2 separate regions of the Homo sapiens genome follow, and region 2 is linked to region 1. Evidence: fine-mapped expression QTL. Tissue or cell type: whole blood. Region 1 holds a variant in brackets; the other region holds the start of a gene. All regions are shown on one strand. Distances are between the middles of the regions.

Evidence for each region. PIP is the estimated chance that this variant, and not a neighbour inherited with it, causes the effect.
Region 2: IL1RAP starts here. The variant in region 1 is fine-mapped to the expression of IL1RAP in whole blood (TOPMed, PIP above 0.99).

What each region holds. Positions count from the first base shown.
Region 1 is chr3:190,563,475-190,571,663 of GRCh38, reverse strand. IL1RAP (interleukin 1 receptor accessory protein) reads right to left here. Exons shown (of 12, transcript NM_002182.4): 3 at 7,311-7,375. The coding sequence starts at 7,374. Among named protein-coding and RNA genes, the nearest start is that of IL1RAP, 53 kb to the right of the region's middle. RefSeq lists an enhancer at 4,608-5,807. The variant C/T (reference allele first, on the strand shown) is at 4,898.
Region 2 is chr3:190,510,150-190,518,338 of GRCh38, reverse strand. IL1RAP (interleukin 1 receptor accessory protein) reads right to left here and starts at 4,254. Exons shown (of 12, transcript NM_002182.4): 1 at 4,120-4,254. RefSeq lists enhancers at 3,064-3,563, 3,564-4,065, 4,818-4,907 and a silencer at 4,318-4,667.

The sequences.
Region 1 (8,189 bases):
GTTAATTAGCTAGATTTAGTCATTCCACAATGTATAAATACTTCGAAATGTCATTTTACATATGATAAATACAATTTAATCTCTCATCTAGTAATAATAATAAAGGTCTATATTTCAACTATAGTTGTACTTTTTTTTGAGAAAGAGAGAGACAGGGTCTTGTTCTGTCGCCCAGGCTGGAGTGCAGTGGCGTGATCACAGCTCATTTTAGCCTTTACCGGCCAGTCTCAAGTGATCCTCCCACCTCAGCCTCCTGATTAGCTGGGACTACAGGTGTGCATCACCATACTCAGCTATTTTTTTAATTTTTTTTTTGTGGAGTCAGGGTCTTATTATTTTGTGCAGGCTGGTCTCAAACTTCTGGCCTCAAGCAATCTCCCCACCTCAGCCTCCCAAAGTACTGGCATTATAGGCATGAGCCAGTGTGCCTGGCCCATAGTTATACTTCTTATGCAAGGGTAAGTAATTAGGAAAAAATAAAACCCACCATAATAAATTAATAAAAAGCAATAGTTAACAGAAAAAATCACACATAAAAAAAATCATGATCGATGTGCCTGTTTTCTTTTTCTTTCCTCTTGAGTATCTACACGTATGCAGTAGGTCCTGGAGAAGGTTCCACTGAGGAAACGTAATTGGCAAATAGACTAAATTGGTCAGTCTTGGTAGCACTGGGTGGCAAGTCCAAATCTCAAAGAGACCATAACATTTTCTTACATAAGGGAAGGGGGAAACGCAAACACCAGTATCTTGGTGCACATATCAAAATGAACACTACTATAAACCTTAAAGAGCACTTTAAAAAAAATATGAAAGTAGCCTGCCATTCCAGCACTTTGGGAGGCTGAGGCAGGCAGATCACCTGAGGTCAGGAGTTCCAGACCAACCCGACCAACATGGAGAAACCCCATCTCTACAAAAAAATACAGAATTAGTTGGGCATGGTGGCAAATGCCTGTAATCCCAGCTACTAGGGAGGCTGAGGCAGGAGAATCACTTGAACTTGGGAGGTGGAGGTTGAGGTGAGCTGAGATCGCACCATTGCACTCCAGCCTGGCAACAAGAGCGAAGCTCCGTCTCAAAAAATAAATAAATAAATAAATAAATAAATATGAAAGTATCTCAGAAGTAAAAAAAAATGGGCTGATGGATAAGAGCCTTAAACTATTTCAGACCCTACAAACACTGCAGAAAAGTGCTATTTATTTCCCAGTAATGTATAGCTATACCAAGCATTTTGGTTCCTATGGTAGAAGGAGAAATGAATGTCATAAAACACAACAGAATATGGTCTAGGTTGCTGAGGAAGTGATTATTTTATTTATTTTCTCTCATTGTCGTAGTCATCTTGCATTTTCATTATTCCCACTATCTCTAAAACACGCAAAGGCAAAGCCAGAAAATTTTGTACATCAGCTTTTATAGGTTTGGATAGCAGGTAACTTGAAGGTGACTGAGGTTCCCAAATTATTTGTTAAATGTATCCATTTTCTCACTGTTCCTCAAAAATAAATGAGAGATGGCAGCACTCAGTGGATTTAAAAATAAAGCAATCATTGTGTTGTTATCCTGGGTGGGTATATATTTTATTTTCTAAAAAGTTAATCAGTTAAACAGAAAAGAAACTTTTTAAGTGGTGAAAGAAAAGTGGGTAGAAACTGGTCTTGGTAGTGAGTCACTGCTAAGGTGGCAATCTGGTCCCTAAAATATGGTAGAAATGAATATTCAGGGTTGGGGGAGTGAGGGAAAGGATAGCAAAAACAAAGGTAATTCAAAGGGTAGAATAAATTCTTGTAAAACAAACATTTTTTCCTACAACGGTATGCAGGAGTTCCTACAAAAATACTGGTTTCCTTTAACTAACACAGCCATGTGAAAAAGAACCAGGTCATTTTTCTAAACTTAGAATTATCACTGTGATACAAGAAGCTGTGTATTTGCAAACTCAGTATCAAGCCAATTATGTGGTACTTAAATTTCTTTTCAATCAGGCTACAGTAAATCCACCCTTGGGAAATATAAGTAACTAAAATATAAGTGTGCTTCAAGCTATAAACACAGCTAAAGAAAAAAAAAAAAGTGAAGAGATCTGCTTCCGAGAGGCATCATTTAAATGACAACAGGGTGAAATTCTGTAATTCCAATGACCTTTAGGACTAAGAATAAAATGAAACAGTATTCTTCATACATTTTCCAAATGTTTGGACTAAATTACATAGAAATGAAGAGTGTTCAGGATGACCAGCCATGGGCAACTGGGACAGGACACAATGTCACAAGTATATCTGAGCACGGAGTTATTAAAGCAAGGATATTCAAATAAAATGAGGCCACTGGGGCTGGTAACAAACTGAATTCTTACCAAAAGGTGAAAGAACCATCACATAGAATTAATAATAGTGTATGTCCTTGCAAAAATACGACAGAATTTAAAAAAAGGAAAAGAAACCTAGCCAACTATAACCAAAATACATTAAATGTGGACATTCTCTTTACCTGAAGTAATTCCCGTCCTGCATAATTTGTTCCCAACCTACCTTTCCAGCTTGGCTTCTAAATGCCTTTGCACTATCTTTTGAGTTGCCCTGAACTATTTCATTCCCAAATAAGAGATGCGTTTCTTCCTAGGAAGGAGCAATGATTAAGTCTTCCCCAATATCTCCTGATAGGATTGGTAACTTTCTCTGCTCTCACGGAATTCTATTTGGTAATTATTTCCTCTTCCTTCTCTCAAACTTTACTGTATTCCTCTTAAAATAAGAAATTCCTCTTACTAACCCTGGATTCTACAATCTAAAATGGTCAAACGCATGATCTTTAGAATAAAGTGAAATCATTGTTAACATTGTTATTAGAAAGAATTTAAGTAGCTAATAGGAGTATACCCTGTGTGTGTCCATGATGCATAGTGTTCCTTCATAAAAATCAAGAAACTGGAATTGACTGGGATCTGCTGCTATTGTTTGTTAATTGTTTGGTTGGTTGGCTTGGTTTATAAATAAGGATGCAATGACAAAAAGTGATGAAATGACCCCTTTACTGTCATCAAACAAGTCACAGAGTAAAACAGAACTTGAATCTCTCAATTACTAGGAAACCACAGTGTTTTTTACTATTTATTTATTTTGCATTGTATAATTCACTCCCAATCATTGGATAGATGATTTCCATTCTCTACCAATTTTGTAAAATATAATGGAAAAGGAATCAGAGGATCTTACTTCTAGTAGCAGAGCACAGTCCTAAAGAAAGGCAATTATAGTATGGAAAAATAAAAAAGAGCACTGTTTCTGGAGTCAAGGCAGCCTGGCTCTATCAGGCAAGCCAGGCTATCATGAGCACTTGGGCCACCTCCCTGGATCTTCATTTCCTAAACTATCAAACAGGTAGAAGAGTCTCCAGCCCCTACCCCTGTACAATGGTTCCTGCGAAGTTCCTGATAATGTGTGTGAAATCCAGCCCTGCACCTGGCACACAGTCAACTGTTGACTTTGAAATAAAATCTTTCTCAAAGATCCGTGTGTGTGCCTGCATTTTGGGGTGGCAGTGTACTCTCTTTTTCATGTGATTTGTCCAGCAAATAATTTTGATATGGTAATATTTTTTAAATTCACTATATTCTATATGGTGCTATTTTTATTACCTCCTCAACTTGGGATCACAGGTTCCAAAATTTATGTCTACTCCAAAGGCAGCTTTTAACAGTTCAGCTTCCTGACACACTGCCAATGAGGCACAGCAAAAGAGACGTGTATTGAGCTGAAGTTTCCATTTCGAAGTCTTACAAACAGAACTTCTTCGAGTTTATTAGTGAAAATATTTAATACTATAATAAGCAAAAAAAGGAATATTGGGTTTGAATTTTGTATTACAATCATTTTCCTCCTGAAGAAAATGTTTCAGTGCTGTGAGGGGGCAGGATAAGCGTGTAAGGATATACCTTACCTACAAAGCATAGAAACCTATCACAGAGTGGTTCTTCAACAGTTTGCAAAATGATTACCTGTGATCCCTTAGATCTTAATCTTTTTTCTTAGTAATTTATATTCTAATAGACCCCAACTGGAGCATATTTCGTAAAAATAATATGGATGTCAGGAATCCAGAAACTCGTTGAAGTCACAAGCATGCTAAGTATAGCTGTGTGACTTCGAGTAATACAATTAAATACTTTGATCCTAACTTGTCTTACCCAACAAAGGTAGTTACAACAGCTCTGACTACCCCATGGTTTGGGTGTGAGACTGACATTGAATATGTACAATGCAAACTGCTTTTTTAAGCAAAGGGAGCTTTATTATTATTACTATAACTAGCACATTATAATTATAGAATCGCTATTATAATTATCCAAGCTTTAATTCCTTAAAGGGAAATAAAGCTTTCTTAAAAAATCATTTGCTTTTATCATCACCTAAGATGAAAATGTTGCTCCCCCATTCCTGAGGGGATAAGGGGATCACAGTACTGCTACCAGAAAAATCATGATCGGAAGTCAGAATCGTATGACTTCACGGCCAGTTCACTGCGTGTGAAAACACATTGCATGGCGCTAAGTTCTTATGCTTTTATGGTTTCTTTTTTATATTTGAGGATTCTCTTAAAAGGCCCACATGGAAGGACTCAGAACAAAATAAATGTCTTACTAATATGATACGCATGTAGATTGCTTTAGGGTTTTCAGAACATTTCTGCTTTGTTCCTCACATCAACCTGTGTTTCCGTTGAGATGGGAACCTGAGCACAGGGAGAGCCTCATGAAAGACCAACAAATCTGTCAGCATCCACAGATGCCTTGTAAAAGGCAATACTTTCATGTGCAGAGAGGTTGGTTGATCCCTCAAGATGCGCAATGATTTCTTTCTTCCCCCACTAGCCCAGAGCCAGTTGCTCTTTT[C/T]GTTTTTGTCAACAACATGTCCTTTTTGTTCCTCTCCCTCCAACTAGGAAGTGGCATCACTGTCAGACACAATACACCTCTTCATAAGGAAGGCAAATGAGTACGTGCCAGATGGGCTGAGGGGATTACAACATGTTTCCTGCTCCCACGGTGACGCAATGTGGCTGGTATGAGAACTTATCTTATTCAAGAAGTTAGCTTCCCCTGGCAGAATTATGAGTCACAGTTCCTGGATAGAAAGCTCTCTTACCAACAGCACTTGAGGTGGGGGCTGGGGACTCCTTGGATGGATTACAGTAAAGGTCATTCAGAAAAGTAACATGGTCAGGACTGCTGGGAAGGCACCAGCACTCATTAGCTTCTGGAACCTCCATGATCCTTCAGCAATGGTAACACAGTCACCTGTCCCTCTTCCTTCAGGATGAGGGAGGACATAAAACCACATGATGAATTACTGGCATGAACCCAAACACGTTCCATTATAAAACTGGACAGTCTGGGGGCAGGGGAAAGGATGTAAAGGGACATGTATTCAACCATTTAACACCTATGTATTGAGCATCTGCTATGTGTCTATGTGTCAGTATTATTCTGAGTGTTTGGATAACAAACAAAAGTTCCTGAACAAGTTCCTGCCCTCAGGCAGCTTAAAATCCAAGACAGAGGGAGGGAAGGAGGAAGAAAAAGAGATGGAGAGAAAGGAAAGAAGGGAGGCAGAAAAGGAGGAAGGACAGGGAGTTCAGGAAGAAAAAAAGGAAGGAAAAGGAGGAGGAAACAAGAGAAGAGGAAGAGGGAGGAGGAGGAGAGAAGAGAAAGAAGGCTAATATAATATCAGGGAATGTGAGTGTTACAAAGAAAACTAAAACAGGATGGAGGGAGAGAGAGTGACTGGTAGGGATTTTTAGTTAAGATGGTCAAGGAAGCCTCTGTGAGCAGATAGCATTCAAACATAGAACTAAATCAAATAAGAACAAACTAAAATCAAGAATTATATTTAACATATTTGAAAATCAGGACATCAAGAAACTCACCTATCAAACGCGACACCTAACCAAGCAGGACAGATGCTGGACTAAACAGCCAAGGAGCTGTCTCCTAGCGCATCCCAGCCGAATAACATCTCCGGTTATCTACAGCCATTCCTCTGTGAAGCCCCAAAGGGCCAACAAGGCTAGAAGTTACTGCTAGTTTCAGCACTGAGCTGTACTCTGTCCTACTTATACCACTCCTTTAGTACTATTTTTGGTTTCTAATACAATGTTTTATGTGGCATAGAAAAGCTGAAACGCACCCAGAAAAGATGATCAGGATGGTAGGAGAGCTCAAATCCATGTCATATGAAAAACAGTTGAAGGCATATATTGCAGAACACTGAGGTCATGGTTATATGGTAGCTAACTTAACATTGCAGAAGCCCTCTCACAAAGAAAAGGAATTAAAGCAACGATATGTAAAGTATGGTTTATGGTGTTCAGGGGAATTTTACATGAAAAGCTTTATAAAATGAGGACCTCTAGGTTCCCTTCATTACAATTAGAGAACCATTGCATTAGGTTTTGGTTGTTTTGTTTGTTTGTTTGTTTGTTTCTTTTTTTTTTTTCAGTCCTACAGTTGAACCAAGTAAATGTTTGGAAAGAGACAAATTTCAGTTTTAGATACTAAAATCAAAGAGACAAATTTCAGTTTTATGTACTAAAAACTTTCTAAGAATTTGATTAGTCCAAAAACATAGGCTGAAATGTAATGATTAATAGTCAGAGATAGAGAGTGATTCTGGGCATAATTCTGGGAAGAAGAGGAGATCTGAAAAGATGGACTTTCAAATAGCAAGTCTCTTCCATATCTAATTTCACGTGATCCAGGCCCATGATGACTGAGTTTGGTTTTCAAACTCTATAAAGGTCTTAGCTGGTTCCTCTTATAAAGCAACATCCAGAGAAAGAATGAGTCTAAAGACAGATCCTTTCTTTTTCCTATATAGAAACAATATGACAAAAACTCATTATTTTATTTAACATCTCAATGGATTATTACCACTGATAACTTTTCCACCACTGGCTCAAATTTGAAAAACAGATTGTGCTATTATCACTCCCATTTTTCCCCCATAGGACCTGAGGTAAGGGAAAAAAGCAATATTCTAGTTGGCTGAGTGTGAAGGTAATGAAAAATACCTGTGTTTAAACACAGCGGCCCACTGCCCCCTGTGTACTCTATCCCATGAAGACTAGAGACAGCAATGGTTCTTTCCATCATCAAAATTCTATTATTCTGCTTTATGATTATTTGCTACCGCAGAAGACAATGGACATGAATAACATTATGTTTATTTAAATTCATTTTCAGGAAGAGTGGACTCATTACCCTACGCATGACTTGCATTTTAATACATTGTCAAAAGCCATTCACTTACCTGAGGCATCACTTTGCAGGATTCCATAAAAGTAGAGACTCACTACACACCACAGAAGTGTCATCCTGTAACCATAAATACAAAGGTAAGGGAAATCACTTACTACTTTCAAGGGCTTAAATAATAATAACTAGCATTCATGCCTGCTGACTATAGACTAGGGACTGTTCTAAGAATTTTACAATATTAACAAATTTCATTGTCAGAACCAACCAATAAGACAGGTTTTATTTTGTTTCTGTTTTTTTGTTGTTTGTTTTTCAATTCCCATATTACATGCAGATAAAGAAGTTTAATACACAGGTTTAAATAACATAACTAAGATCCTTTGGCTAGAGACAAGTTTCAATAACATCACCACGATCCTTTGGCTAGAGAGTGGTAGAGCTATGATCAAACTCCAGCTTTCTGGCTCCACAACTCTCTTTTTCACTGAACTATAACTGCCTACTTAAAAAATATTCATCTGGATTTTTTGACCAGGATTTACATTTCTGGCAGATAAATTCAACCTTCTTACCCCTCTTTGCATTCCCTTGGTCTATTTCTAGTTGGAATACTTTACAATCCAGGTACTTTTCCCTTTTAGTGACACATAGACACATAGAAAGTCTAGAAATCCTGGATTCAGACTTTGTCTGCAATCTACCATACTGTGAATTTATATTAAGGAAAATATATAAATCTAATTCCTGCTGTTCGTGCTCTCCTCTTCTCACTGGAAGACAGAAATGATGAGGGAGGAGTCAACTTTCTATGATCTTTCGCCTTCCTATTAATAACCAGCTGAAACAGCCAACTGCTGTGAACCATACCCTTACATTTGGTTGCATGATATTTAATGCTGAAGATGTGGAGATTTGACAGCTCTGTGAAGTA
Region 2 (8,189 bases), 53 kb after region 1:
ATTAAATGTTTTCTATGAATAAGATGTTGAAATAAATAGGGACTTAAGCTTCTAAGCAGGCATCAGTGTCCCTATTTCCTAGCTGCAGAGCCAAAAGATCATCTCTATAGAATAACTTGCCTCAGATTTCAGCCAGACTCTCAAAATCCACACTACCACAGCTGCTACAGAGAGTTAGAATAAAGTCAGACCAAAGGGATGTCTCCTAACAACCCTATCAGTGTAAACCATGCATTATCATTTAAAAAAAAAAAAAAGGCAGCAAATGAATGGCTAACCTGAATTTATCCACCGAAATATCACTTACCAAATGTTCTGTAACCTTCCTATTCTTTGGTGTTTCTTTTTTCTTTTCTTCTTCTTTTTTTTCCATGCAGAACAATTTCCAAAATGGGCAAAGAGCACAGTAGGTGGCTCTCTTTAATATTTCATGGGCAAGGCAACAGTGACTCACCAGATCCTACATCTGTGTCACCAGCAAAAGCCTGATGAAGTTGAGCAACAAATGAAGCTGTGTATAGGCTGGAGATAATCTTTGTTTTTTTCTACGTCCTCTGATTTCCTCAAGCCACATTCTGCTTTCCTAACCGTGCCAGGTAAGATGATGCTAACTGCTTACCTATAGGAGCAAACATATGCTCCAAAATGCCAAAAGCAAGGAGCAAAATGTTCCTTCTACATCTGCGTTTGCAAGCCTGTGTGCTTGCTACAAAGAAGAGAAATCTAATGGCCTATGAGAAGTCTCAGCAGATGAACAGCCCCACTGCCTGGGCCAGAAACAGATCCCTTCATCTTCCAACATGAGCCTCCAGCCATCACTTTCCACAAGGAGGAGTGAAACTCCAGACAAGTAATCAGCACCACCAGGAAGCAGTGGTCTCTTTCTGCAAATGCCACCTTTGCACATTATTCTGTCTACTCTACTCAGTACCCACAAAATTGTCAAAAAAAAAAGTTGAATAATGCCATGGACACTCATAACATTTGTTGTTCAATCTTCTTCCCAGCCTTTGAACTAGCATGAGGATGGCAGAGGGAAGAAACCACTCACAACAGGAAGAAAAGAGTGATATAATTCTGTACTTTATGTCTTCTTAGTTAGTACCCTTTCTCTTAGGAATCAAAGGTGTATTACATCCAACACAGGAGAGTAGGAAGGTTGTCTTAGAGACCATTGCTTTAAATACCCTCTTATGACAGTTGGCTCCACTAAACTCTACAGAACTGTGCTTAAGGATTGTTCTCTTTGCAAGAAAATACCTGCTTTTCAACAAAAAGGATATCCTGAAATAACCAGACAAATAAGGTCAACTTTATAACTGAAGTAAATTGTTAAATATCTCATTGGCGAGGAAACAGAGTGTGATGGGAAATGCCCTAAACTAGACATGAAAAGGTGTGAACTGTATTCCCAGAGTTGAAACATACTAACACATGACCTCTAGCAACTTTTCATTTCTCTGAGTCTCATTCCAGTTATGTTCTAAATAAATTGAGACTAGCTAAGAAGAGATATCATTTAATGAGCACCTATTCACTACATGTACTTGACATTATTCTATTGAATTTATTCGTTATACAGATTTTTAAAGTAAGCATTTTTTTTTTCCATTTTAGAACTGGATAAAACAGAAACTTCAAATGATTAAATAAACTGCTCAATATCACCCAACTACTCAGGCATGAGAGCTGGAATTTGAAATCAAGTAGGTCTGACCACAAAACCTGGGCTCCTTCCTCTATTAATATTCTTGCCATGTCCTCCCAGGGCTATTGTGAGTAACAAGGAGTATCATATATACAGAATGCACTTTGGAAATTTTAAAGTTCTATACATATATATGGTTTTGGTAACAAGTAATAATCTGTATGAAGATATGGGTATAATTGACCAACCTTTCTTTGAAGAATCAGAACCAAAGGAATTAGCTTTTAATCTCCCTTCCATCCTCATGATCTGACCTTATTTTGAACATTTTCCTTTTCCCCCACAAGGCCCCTGTCTCTCAGGCACACATTCAGTCATATCCCAGCCAGCTCACCACAATGCATGTACATGGAACAAGCTGATAGAAGCAGGTGATCCCATCCTTTACTAATGCTTGGTGCGGGAGGTACTTAAGTGGGCACCACTGGGCTCTTATCTTCCATCAAGATGTATCACACTCTGTTCTCAAGCACTTACCAATACTGCATACAAATGCTATGGCCTGTGAAGGAGGCAGCCAACTACAAATGCTGGACACTCAATTTAAGGACGCATGGCAAAGCCAGTAGATAGTAGTAAATTATTGCATGAAGTTCATCAGAATAAAATCAATTGTCATGAGAAGGGTTAAGGGTGTGGGAGGGAATCCATTTAACTTTAAAATACCAATAATACAGGAAGACTAGTGTGGGCATGTGAATGTCTGTGTGTTCGTGTTTAAATAAGGCAAGTTTGTGTCCAGAAAGGTTTGCATTTAGCAGCATCTCTGTACAATCCAAAAGAAATATATGAGAATTTTGTTTGTTTTCTGATACTAGATGAAAAATGTAAGGTTGCTCGACTGACCTAAGAGAGCAAGGATAGAAGGCTTAGAATAATCTGTAACACAGCTGCAACTTCCAACTTTGTCTTCTTGTCTTTCTGCCTCTCACCCATTTCAAGACCCTCTTTGTCAATAAAGGATGTCTCAGATCAGGGCAGTTCACAGGCCTGAGGTTTGACCTAAAAACTAGTAGGAAATTCATATCACCGAGAAACATCAATTTTACATTTCGAGCTAAGCATCCATGATCCACATCACATATGGACAACATTCAGAAAATTCTTATTATAAAAGAGTTGCTCAAATTCAAAAGAAGAAAGACACCACATTTACAGATTTTTTTAAAATGCCTCTGTAAGATGGTATGAAATCACCTTTCTGAAAACCCACTGTCTGCAAGGTTACTATGTAACAATATTTACAATAGTTGCCATTGGTTTTGAACCAACCAGATGCCAGGCCAGGCACTGTGCTAAACATGCTACTTGAATGATCCCATTTCATCCTTCCAACTACCCAAAGGGCTCATTGTGACCATTATAAATCTCCATTTTTTGGCTGGAAAAAAAAAAAAGGAAGAAAGAAAGAAAAGAAAAACCCAGTATCGGAAAGGTGAGATAACTTGCCCAAGTTCACACTGCTAATACATGGAAGAGCTGGAGTCAAAACTCAAGTCCTCTTTCTCATCCAGTAGCTAAACCAGGGATCTGTACAGCAGAGCAGCAGAATGCTTCGCGTGGCGCCCTGGTTCACAATTTCACAACCAGAAGGTGGAGGGAAGACAGGCTGTGGGCTAGCTCTTAAAGGAAACAGCCGAAGTTTGCTTTTATGTTTGTGATTTTCTCTTTAACTCAGCTTCCTTGCTCCCTCTCAGTATTTAGAAGAGGGAAGGGGCTCTATGGTTCCATGAAGTCAGCTCTTCCCAAGTGAGGGGCACCCTGTGCCCCACAGGGCCACTAGCTCCGCTTCCTCCGGGGCTGGGAAGAAACAGTACCATAGGAGGTCACTGGCGCCCGGGCCTCGCTCCTCTCTCCCCGCGCTCCTCCAGAAGCTGGTCCGACACCCTCTGAAGGGGCATCTTTCTGAGAAAGCAGGTCAGGGGAAGAGGGAGTGAGGCTGCAAGCAGCATTTTCCCAGGCTGTCACAGCTCTGCGCTGAGAGCGACGTGATACCGAGTGGGCGTGCTGGGACACACCGCTTCCTTCTGTCCTCGGCGCTTCCAGCAGCGGTCTGGAGAAACCAAGGAGGAGATGGGGGCGGGGGGTGGTAGCGGGGAGGGGGCGGTGAGGAGGAAAACAAGGGTAGACCCCTCAAAGGGCTGAGGATGGGGGCGGCAACGAGCAGACGTCCCACAACCGCGTTACTTAAATCCCTGCAAAGCAAAGATGGGTCTCTGAACGTTTGGGTTCGAATCCGGGCTCCAGTCCTAACTAGCAGTATGACCTATCCCAGCCGCTGCCTCGTTCTGTGCCTCAGTTTCCTCTTCTGTAAAGTAGGAGGGTTTAACGATAGGATCTCTAAGAATCCGTCTACCCTGAGATTCTGCGGCTTGGTGACTTCTGAGCCCTCACGGCGGCGCGAGACTCACCTTTCTTGGGAAGCTGAGAGGGCGCAGCAAAAGCAGCCGGGATGGGTGCAGTGTCGCCGGGCACTGCTTCCTTCCGCGCCTCTGGCCAAAGCGGACCCCGGAGACCTGGATCCCGGCAGTCTTCCCCAGTGAGCCTCTTACTTTCCGCCGCACTTTCTTTTCCCCCTTTGGGGCTCCTCCCCCGGAGCGGCGCGATTGGCCACGGCCTCACGGCTCAGGCTCCACCCGCCGCCTTGGCTCGCGATCCACCGGCGCTCTGGGCTTCCAGGAGCTGCGGCCGCGGGGCGGCGTCCTGGACGGTCCCGCCCGCCGCCAGGAGGCGCGGCGCCGGGCCCGCCTGCGGACGGATGCAAGGCTGCGCTCGGCCCCTTCGGCTCCCTGCCACCGCCTGTGCGGGCTTGAGCGCGCGGGGAAAGGAGAGGGTTAGTCCTGCAGCGCAGCTCGGCACGCTGCCAGGCGCTGTGGGAAGCTACGCCCCTCACTACACACCGAGGCGCACACATGCGCTCATTGCAAGATCGTGCTCTCGCAGTTGAGATCGGTGCCACCCTGCCCTTTCTTCCTGTCTCGACGTATTTAGCAATCATGCTGCAAGGCCTTGAATCAATTCAGACTGCACGATTTTCGCAACCACCCTGTGCCGGCACAGAGCGCGGCAGGATGTAGATGCGATCTCCGCAGTCCTGAGCTCTTGCTGTCTTGAACTGACATTCATATGAGCAAGCAACAGGACATGACAGCAAGACTAAATCTGTATTGTCCACTGGTAATATACCCATTGCCTAGCACAGTGCCTGGCACAAAGTAGGCACTCAATACATGTATGGGGAACGAATAAAAGAACTAATAGGTTACATAGAAGGAAATAATCTCAAAACAAATATTTGCCTTCATTCATTTCCATTTCCCCAAGTTTTTGCAAGAGCCTTCCTTCAGCTGCCCTCTGCCACTGTAGATGGTAGTCTGTAATATATCCCGGGAAGCGTTATAAAGGCTTTCATTAAGTCATCTCTCTTGTTCAGGCACCTTCTGCTGTGTTCCTACTGCTAGTGCCTCATGATTTTTCCTGACTGGCAAGGCCCTTCATGACCTGTCCCCATTTCTGAAACCCCCTAACCAAAGCCACCTACCAGACTGACGAGTCTTCGCACATCTTCTTGCTCATCACATCTTCTTTTCTCCTCCTCCTACCTAACTGAATCCTACTAATTTATTTTCAAGAATCAAGATTCAGAGAAAGCATTTAAGGAAAAGGAGAAAAAAGATGTGAAATAAGAAAAGGGCCCAGGTGAGTGGGAAGGAAATGAAACCAGCAGGTGCCCGTGCTGCTAAAGGTGCACAGCAGTACGAAACTCAGAGGCTGCCCCTGCCCTGGCGGAGCTTCAGTTCCTAAGGTGAAATATCAGTGTAATTGGAGCCATAGAAATGTTCATGATACTTTACTTCTTGACATCACTTATGAAAATTAATTGCTCAAAATTTTTATTTATCTCAGGATACCTGGGACCCAGCACCTGCTCACAACATTGTCACTGAACCAAAGAGAAAATAATCCAAAAGAATTTAAAATGTTACCTGTATGAAGCAACAATAAAACATTTTCTGATTTATTATTCATTCCTTAAATATATTCTGGGCACAGACTTTTATATATATATAGTACACTGAAGCATTTACACAGTGCTTACAAAATAAAAAGGTGCAATCATAAGGACTTTGTGTATATTAATTCAGGTAACCCTCAATACAACCTGGAGGGTGCTATTATTATCTCCAGTTCATAAAGGAGATAAAGGGAATTTAAATAACTTGACCAAGGCTACAGGCCTACAAGTGGAGAATACAAAATGAGACTAGAGACACTCGACGTTCATGCTCTCAGCCGCTACTCAGTCTCATGTACTACCTAGAAGCCAAACAGATGCTAGTAATTCAGAATTGAACCAGATGTATATTCCCGGACATTGAAGGGCTACTCATAGCTTAAGGAAGATAACATTAAGATGAATAATCATATAGACAAATATTCATAGTATATTGTAGTTTGAACACAATATAAATGGTTGGAAATGAAAATGATTAGTTAACCAACGCTGTCTACGCACAGAATAAAATATTTGCATCATAACTATCATATTATGGAAATATGTCTACAAAGAAAAAGGCTTACAAAATAAGGTTGAGTAAAAGTTGTGGAGAGATGAACACCAATTGAAAGGAATGTGAAAAAATGTTGATATGTTAGGATTACAGAAATAGAAACATCTCTTTTTCCTTTTACATTTAAGTGAAATAAACCAAGCACAGAAAGACAAATTTTGCAAATTCTCACTCACACGTGGGAGCTAAAAATTAAACAAAGGAACTGAGATATGAGAGTAGAATGATGGTTACCAGAGGCTGGGAAGAGTAGCAGAGGCAAGGGAGTTGTGGGGAAGGGAGGATGGTTAACGGTTGCAAAAATATAATTAGCTGGAATGTATAAGACCCAGCACTTGATAGCACAACAGAGTGACTACAGTCAACAATAATTAATTATGCATTTTAAAATAAGTAAGAGTGAAATTGGAATGTTCCTCAAAGAAGTGACAAATGGTCAAGGTGATGACACCCTGTTGTCATTACCCTGATGTGATTATTACACATTGTATGCATGTATCAAAACATCACATGTCACCCATACATATATACACCTATTATGTACCCGTAATAATTAAAAATGAAAAAATGTTATGCTAACAATTGAGAAAAATATTTTAAAGCTATACCCATTAAATATCCATCACATACTAAACATTTGATGAATAATAGTTGCCTAAATGAATAAATGAAGCTACAAATTCATTGATGTCAGTGACTAATACTGCTGGATGTATAGAAGATGCACAATAAAATATTTTGCAATTGATTGATGTATTTGGAAAGGTATTATTATTCTCTTCTTCTCCCAGCTTTTACCCTCCACCTTTTTTTTAGGTTATCTTTAATTATCTTGCTGTAGCTGTAAGACGCATCAGGAGTTTGCTAGTCTCTTGAACCCAATCCATTCAGACATTTATCTCTACCACTCCACAGTCAGCATCTGTAATGATCTTCACTTTGCCAAATGTGGTGATCAATTCTCTGTCTTCATTGTACATGTATCAGCAGCATTAGACACAGATAATCTGTTGCTCTTTCACACTCTCTCGTACTTGACTCTTTGTTTTTCATGTATTTCATCTGCTGTTCCTTATCAGATTCTTATTGAATCCTCTACCTCTTCATGATCTCTGAAGGTTCCAGTGTCCTAGAGCTCAATCCTTGAAGTGGTTATATTCTCTACCTAGGGGAACTCAGACAGACACATGGCCTTCTAAAATATCAATATGATAATAACTTGCAAATCTAAATCTAAAGCCCAAACCAGACTTTGTATACCATATTACCTCCTTCATATCTCCTTCTTGGATGTTTTAAATACATCTCAAACTTTACATGTTCAAATTCAAACTTTATTTCTGCCCCACACCAAACCAGAGCTTTGTAAGCAACACTGTCTTTTACCCAGTTGCTCAGGTCAAAAAGTTGGAGTTATCACTCTCTCTCATTGCCTGTACACATTATATCCACAAACCTTCTGCTTCCTCTACATTCAAAACACATCTCAAATCCAACCACGCTATTCCTCTTCTCCATCACAACCACCATGGTTCAAGTCATTGCCATCTCTCCCCTCACTGGTGTCCCTGCTTAAACTCTTACCCAAAGAGTCTATTGCCCTTACTTCAGAGACCCTTATAAATGAAAATAGAATAAATACAGGCTAGTGATTGAGGTCAAGGAATCTGAAGCCCGACTACCTGGGATCAAGTTTACATAATGTGGTCAAGTTACTTAATTTCTTTTTTTCACAGTTTTATTCTCTGAAAAATATGAATAACAATGACAATAATATACATTATAGTGCTGTTTTTAAATTAAATGAGATTATATAAGTAAAACACTTGGCATGGGGATTGGCATGTAGAAATGCAATATAAATATTCATTATTCTTTTACAAGAAATATGTCATTCTCTGCTTTCAAAT